2 linked regions of the Homo sapiens genome follow. The protein of the gene in region 1 purifies or fractionates together with the protein of each later gene. This does not show direct contact. Each region holds a gene or a part of one and is shown on either strand. Other genes may lie near its edges.

Region 1 (3,827 bases):
GAGAGGATTTGGGGGGAACTAAATAAAAATACTAGGGGAATAAGGAAAAGTTTCAACACTAGGAGTAATTTTCTTTAAAGAGTTTTTAATATTGAGAGTGAGGGGAAACTGGAATTTATATAAAATGACAGAGCTTCATCATCCGAGGAAAATGTTGAAAGCAAAAAAAAAAAAAAAAAAAAGAGGGAAATTTGTGTTGTTCTTGGAGTAAAGGCAAGGAATTTTTTTTGCCAAGAATAATGGAAAGGAGAACTTACAGAGGAAGAATTTTGAAAAAGTGCTGGAATAAAGGTAATCACTCATGCTGGGAGGAGATACATGTAAAGGGTTTATAGTGGGGAGGCTGGGACACAGTAGTAAGGAGGAGAGACTTCAGAAGAAACATTCAAAGAGCATGAGGAATGAGAGCTCCTATCTGTGACGGCTGCTTCTGTCACTCTCAGTAAACACGCTTCCAACTCTTCCTGGGCAAGCCATTCATATCCACCTTCCCAATCTTGAGTTTTTCCAGAAATCATTGAGAAAAGAAAATGCAATTCCAGAAATGAGAGACATAATATCAATTTGGGGACTGATGACACATGACCCAGGCTAAAACTGGTTGGAAAACAAATACTCTGTTTTGGGAATTGTATTAAAGTATTTGGAGTGAAATGACAGAGCTCTCTGCTGTGAATAATGGGATTGAAACCTCAACATTAGAAGAATTTGGAGAAATAATGCAATCTTTAAAATGACAGAGGAGAAATTGTTTTCCTTGTGTGAATGAGTGACATGGGTCTGAAATTATTATTAATTTACATTTGTTTAGTGTTTTACAACTGCTAACCCGTTTAAATAAAATCATAGTGTAGATAGGCCAATTTGGAGAATGATTAGTGATTTTCTTTGGGAATTACAGGGACTATTTTTTTTAATTTGTTGAGAGTTAAGACAGGTACCATTCTCTACTAGAACTGAGGAAGGATAAAAGGAACTTTGTTATGACTTGATTGCAGGAGTAGAAGCTATATTAGCAGGTGAAAAGAAATATGATATATAGAAGTAATTGGGTAGAAAGTTATTGAAAATGGTAGATTGAAAAGAATCACAAGTTTGGAATGTGGGAAGCAGTGGGGAAAATTGAGAGAATGTCTTTTAGTAAGAGTAATAAAGAGGAGAGAATTCCGAACTGTTAGGAAAGATTAAAGTATGACTCAATAGAAGAGCCCAAAGCAGTGCTGGCTAGTAGAGATATATGCAAGCCATATATGTCATTAAAAATTTTTTATTAGCCACATTAAAAAGATAAAAATAGGTAAAATTAATTTTAATTTTATTTAACTCAAGATGTCCAAAATATTATTTCAACATTAATCAATATTAACATTTTAATGATATAATTTTATATCTTCTTTTCATATTAAGTCTTCAAACTCCAGTGTTATTTTACACTTCCAGCACATCTCCATTTGGACTAGCCATGTTTCAGTTGGTCAGTAGCCACAGGTGAACAGTGGTGACCGTATTCAACATGACGGATCTAGAGAGTTTTAAGAACAGAGTTATGTGAAAGTGATGGAGGAAAAGGAGCTTTGAATTGGATAATGGGTCCTCAGTGTATTAGGAATAATGGAGAGAAGAGAGCAGGAAGCACTAAATGACAGGAGAGAACAGAATTCTGTCTTAGGTGGGATGGGCAGAGATTATCTCGTGTGTCTGACGGTTTGTGTGAGCTCTGGCTGAGAGTAATCAAAGCTAACTTGCTGTGTGCAAGATGTGGTGCAGATATGCATCACAGCAACAGTGGGTGAAAAGGACGCTATGTGCTGGGCAAATGATGAAAAGAGCCGTGAATGTGGAGAAATGTAGAAAGCTGGGCGCGGTGGCTCACGCCTGTAATCCCAACACTTTGGGAGGCCGAGATGGGCAGATCACCTGAGATTGGGAGTTTCAGACTAGCCTGACCAACATGGAGAAACCCCATCTCTACTAAAAATACAAAATTAGCCGGGCTTAGTGCCGCATGCCTGTGGTCCCAGCTACTCAGGAGGCTGAGGCAGGAGAATCACTTGAACCCAGGAGGCAGATGTTGCAGTGAGCCGAGATTGTGCCATTGCACTCCAGCCTGGGGGGCAACGAGCAAAACTCCATCTCAAAAAAAAAAAAAAAAAAGGCAGAAGAAAACTTTGAGTTGGGGGTGTCTAGAGCAATTATTCACTCAGGGGAAAAAGAAGATTGGATTGCCTGAATGCAAAAGCTTAGGAAGTGAGGAATGGTAGCTACTCCATATATATTTGTTAGATGGATGACAAAAATGTAGTGAGAGATTGACGTGAAAACTAATACCAGTATTGGGCATAGTGAAGAAAACATTTGTAGTTTAAGGTTATATAGAAGATATGGGAATATGATGGGACAAACTTGAGACATGCTGTTGTAGTAAACATTGTTTTTTTAAACTAAGCTTAAAAAGATTTGCTAATTTCTGAATACAGATTGGCAATAATAATTGAAATCATGCAAGGAGACCGGGGAGACTTCCTAGGAGCCTCGTATTCAAGTGCTGATTACCGTAAGCTAAGCACCTGAATGTAGCTAGGGAACATTTGGATGACCATTAATTAATTTCTGAATAGGTATCCATTATGATTGTCAAGATATGATATTTACTTATGAGAGGAAAACAGAAAATGATAATATGACGTGGAATTAGAGAATTATGTTGTTAGAAACAAGAGGGAGATTTTTGGGGGAAGTGATGGAGATCCAGAGTATGTTTTCCTAGAACTTTTGAGCATACAGTCAGAGTGATTGCTGCATTGACATTTATAGAAAGGCAAATACTGCATTAACTTAATGTGATTGATGGAACATTTGTTTAGGAGTTGTGACACGTGGATTCAATTCTCACCTTTGTCACTCATTAGTTGTATAATTTTGACAAGTCACTTAGTTCAATTCAGGGAACATTTATTGTCTGTCTATTACTACAGACTTAGTATATTTGAGACACAGTGGGAGATTCAAAGTCACATGACTTCTCTAGGCTTTGGTTTCCTCAGCTGGGCCAAAAGTTTTGGTTCAGATGATTTTTAATGTTCCTTTCAATTCTCTAGGCCTCAGTGTTTAAAGTAGAGCTCTCAACCTGGACTCCACAGACCTTTCATCAGGGGATCTGTTAGCTATGGGTGGGAGAAAATTTATACCTTTATTTTTTATCACTTCAACTATGAATATAGGCCAAAAATCATAGTTGTTTCAGCGTGCATGATGTTTTTGTCAGTGAAAGAAATCACAGATAGTTTGATATACATTTACAGTCTTTGGAGGGACCTTGTTTAATGAATAAAGAAACATGATTATATCACAAGTTCTGTTTTAAACTATATTTTAATATACTTGACTTCAAATGTAATACTATGTATTTTATGTTGTATGTCTAAAAGCATTATTCTAGAAAGTGTTCATAGGCTTTACCAGACTGACAAAGGACTTAAGGGCACAAAAGGGTGAAGAACCCCCTGGATCAGAGATAGACCTCAGGAGTGACAACAGGAAAATTTTATTAGGAGGATTAGAATCAGAGGCTAAGATGCCCTGTGCCATAGTGAAAGTAACCCTTCAGGGGTTGGCAGAGAGAAAGAGTCTCTAAGGTGGCACATGTAAATATGGAGATATATATAATAGATGATTAGGAGGAGGATTCTTATACTTGGAGTGGCAGGCATGAGTAGACTATACTGGGAATAATGCAGAGAGGTAATATTTGGAATAATGGGGGAAATATTTTAATTGGAAAGAAGGAAGAACATGCATTGTGAGCAAAGTGCTTTGCATTGAGAGAA
Region 2 (3,827 bases), on another chromosome or scaffold:
TTATTCCCTAAAATACTGAGAACAGTTAAAAAAAGACAGTCCAAAAGAACTATGACTTGTTTCCTGGTTTTAATTAGGTATATTGATATTTTGAAAAAAAATGATAAATTCAGAAACACCAACCTTTCTTCTGTGCACTCTGCTTTCTCTGTTCCATCAATCTCAATTTCTATCAGCTCCTCTGCTTCTCTTTTAGTCATGGCTGGAGTATTTCAAAGGATCAGTCCTGCAAGAGTGACTTTTTAAGATATTTTAAAACTATCCACATAAACGAAATGACACACAAGAAGTAGAGACCCAATCCAAATAAAAAGCAAACGCCAAGCAGAAGAGGGGGAAGTAGTCTTTACATATAGAAGAAAATCAGCTGGGTGTGGTGGCTCATGTCTCTAATCCCAGGACTTTGGGAGGCCAAGGCAGGCAGATTGCTTGAGCCCAGGAGTTTGAAATCAGCCTGGGTAACTTGGCGAAATCCTGTCTCTACTAAAAATACAAAAATGAGCAGGGCGTGGTGGCACGCGCCTGTAGTCCCAGCTATTAATACTTCGGAGGCTGAGGTGGGAGGATCACCTGAGCCCAGGAGGCTGAGGCTGCAGTGAGCCATGATCGCACCACTGCACTCCAGTATGGGCGACAAGAGACCCTGTTTGAAAAATAAAATAAAGAAAATCCACAAATGACATTTATAAACTAATTTTTTAAAAAACTGGTGTTTATTAACCTGACATGACAACTTCATTAATCTACTGGATTTACTGAGATGTTTTCGGGACCAATTGCAATCAACAAGTTACCTCAAAATTAAGTTAAGGGTCTGTTAACTATATTAAAGCAACTCAGTCTCAATAACAGATTCAAACCTGAAGCTTAACATGGAGATGAACTATGTTTATTCAGCTGAAAGTTGTACCTTAGTAGCAGAATTTACTGCAAAGTATCACACTGATACAATGATATGCAAATTAATCAGCTAGGATTTGGTACAAATGATGTCTCTTATAAATGCAAGAATATTATAAAACAGCAAAACAAAGTAACAAATTACAGATATGCACATTATTTCCCTGATTACACACAGTAGAAAATTTTTAATGATTTTTTCAGAGGTGGTTTTATTTTAAACAGACCACTACTTCAGTTTTTAATTATCCCATGTAAAATTTTTATCTATTGCTTAAAACCACTGATACAAAAACATTAGAATTTTAAAAATGCTAAAGAATACACAAATAGCTAATATACATAGATATTTCTTTGTGGACATGTCTGAGGTGTTAATACTGTTAAGTACCAGGTTCTGTTATTAACTACCTCGCAGTAGGTCAATGAATGTCTTTGAATTCCATACGCACTTTCAGTCCACAGCACCTTCTGAGTAGTTATTCTAAGCGTACTACCACATCTAAAAAGAGGCGTACCTTTAAAAGGAACGCTCCACTAAATTTGGTATTTCGACATTTACAAAAGAGTTGTGCTCCCACTTACAAGATTTCACTAAATGAAGAATTTAAATGTTCATTTGTATTAACCATTACTCGCCGAGCATCAGGCACTGCATTCAAATGCTTTGCATAGAGCAATCTTATTTTGAGCTCCATCTCATACGAACGCTATTCAGAGGTGAGGCTAAACCACTTGTGGCTCCATGTCACAGTTTTGGTGTATCAACCTAAGTAGGTATCATTCCAGATGGGGATGAACCATGGTTGTCCAAATATAGGCTCTGTATTGCGTATATCAGTACAACAGCCACCACCACCCCTTACCTGGAGTACTGCAACAATCTCCTAAAGGGGGTCCCTGTGTCCACTCTTGTCCCCTCACAGTCTATTCTCAGTCAATACAACGGCCAGAGTGTGATCGTTTTTAAAACGCAGCTAGGGCCAGATACGGTGCCTCATGCCTGTAATCCTAATACTCTGGGAGATCGAGGAGAGAGGACTGTTTGAACCCATGAGTTCAAGACCAGCCTGGGCAACATAAAAAGAACCTGTCTCCTATAAAAACATTTTTAAAATTAGCCAGGCATGGTGGTGTGCAACTGTTGTCCTAGCTACTTGGGAGGCTGAAGTGAGAAGATCGCTTGAGACCAGGAGTCGAGGCTGCAGTCAATGATGATCGTGCCACTGCACTCCCTCCTGGGCAACAGCGAGACCCTATCTCTTGAAACAAATAAATAAAAGTAGAAGGTCCTTAAAAGTAGAAGAGGAAATTGGAAGAGAGAGCCAGAGTGATTCAATGTGAAGATCTGCCGGTTAGCTGTGACTGGCTTTGAAGATGGAGGAAAGGAGCTTTGAGCCAAGGAATGCAGGTAGCTTCTGAAAGCTAGACAAGGAACGGATTCTCCCTCGAAGGCTCTAGAAAAACAGCACTGGCAACACCTCATTTTAGCCCAGAGACCTACTTCATATTTCTGACTCCAAAACTGTAAGATAATAAACAGGTGGTGTTTTTAAGCCACTAAATTTGCATAATTTGTTACACTAGCATTAAGAAACTGAGTCTCCCTTCCCACTTTAGAAAGGGCTATAACTCTCCTAAGTTCTCAATATCTCCAACTATGGGGTAGCTGGTTTTCTGACAAATAGCTGGCACCCAAATCTAGACTGCCTGATACAAAATGATCTAATTTTTCCCACGTAATTAAGGTTGCTCTCAGGCTTGCCCTTTAAGGACGAACAATAAAAGGGTAAGGTTCTCCACTGGGATGGACGCATGCATATGGAGCAGACTGCGCAGGCTCCGTTCACAAGCACATCTAGCCGACTGCGCAGATTCTGTTCACGTGCATATCTAGCAGAATGCGCAGGCTCCAGCAGGCTTTTTTGGGGATGATGAAGAAATGAAGACCCTCTGTTTTTGGTTTTTTTTTTTCTTGCTGATGCTGGTCTAATAAGCCTTCCTTTTCTCCAATAAAGCCTATTCCTTAACTGGTGCTATGTGTAAAATTGTGGAATTCATCCTGAGGGCTGAAGAAAACAGGTGGAAACCGAGTAGGGATCTACCTTGAAGGACAACATAAGCTTCCAGGGCAAGAATATGTGTTCACAAATATATACAAAGTACTCTGAAGAGTACTACCTTCAGCAGGCACTCCACCAATATGTGTTGAATAAATGAATAAGAACTATTTCACACCATATAAAATGAACTACACATGCCTTAAAGGATTAAACATACAAGGCAAAACTATGAAACAGAAGAAAATGGTGGGGACATTTTTGTGGTCTCAGGATAGAAAAAGATTTCTTAAATAAAATTCCAAGAACATAACCGTAAGGAGAAAAATCTGATTACATAAAAATCAAGATTTATGTTCAACAGACAGGCTACAGAATGGAAAGATGTTTCCAATACCCAAAAGTGACGATGGAATAGACAATGGCCTGGAATTTGATAACCAAAAAAAGGGACAAATTAGAAAAGTAGTTAAAGCATAGGAAAAGGATATTCACATAACGGGAAACCAAAATAACTCAGGATACAAAGAAATGCCCAAATTCAAATCATTCAAAAGTTCAATTTAAAACAAGAAACTACCACTTTATACCATGTGTGTGTTGGGGGCAGGGGGCGGCGGCGGCGGCAAATGTCAGAAAATTAAATAACGAGAGCAGTTAGCAGGGACATAAGATTCCCCTATCTCTGGAGATGTGGTGTACACACAGGTGTAGACATTCTGGAGAAAAGTATATCAAGCATACTCATACCTATAACCCAGCAATTTCATCCCTAACTAAGCATTCCAGAAAAATTCTCAAATTGGTTAACAGGATTGATTGACAATGTTCAGGGCAGCTTTATTGGTGACAGCTGGTGCCAATCCA

Evidence for each region.
Region 2: the proteins of GBX1 (region 1) and GABPA purify together in Homo sapiens (affinity purification with mass spectrometry; one large-scale study listed by BioGRID and IntAct). This does not show direct contact.

Annotation. Positions count from the first base shown.
Region 1 is NC_000007.14:151,161,132-151,164,958, reverse strand, and holds part of GBX1 (homeobox protein GBX-1), read left to right. Parts: intron 1-3,827.
Region 2 is NC_000021.9:25,737,972-25,741,798, reverse strand, and holds part of GABPA (GA-binding protein alpha chain), read right to left. Parts: intron 1,920-3,827; exon of another isoform or gene 1,767-1,919; intron 1,403-1,766; exon of another isoform or gene 1,312-1,402; intron 239-1,311; exon of another isoform or gene 227-238; 5' UTR 201-226; coding exon 124-200; intron 1-123.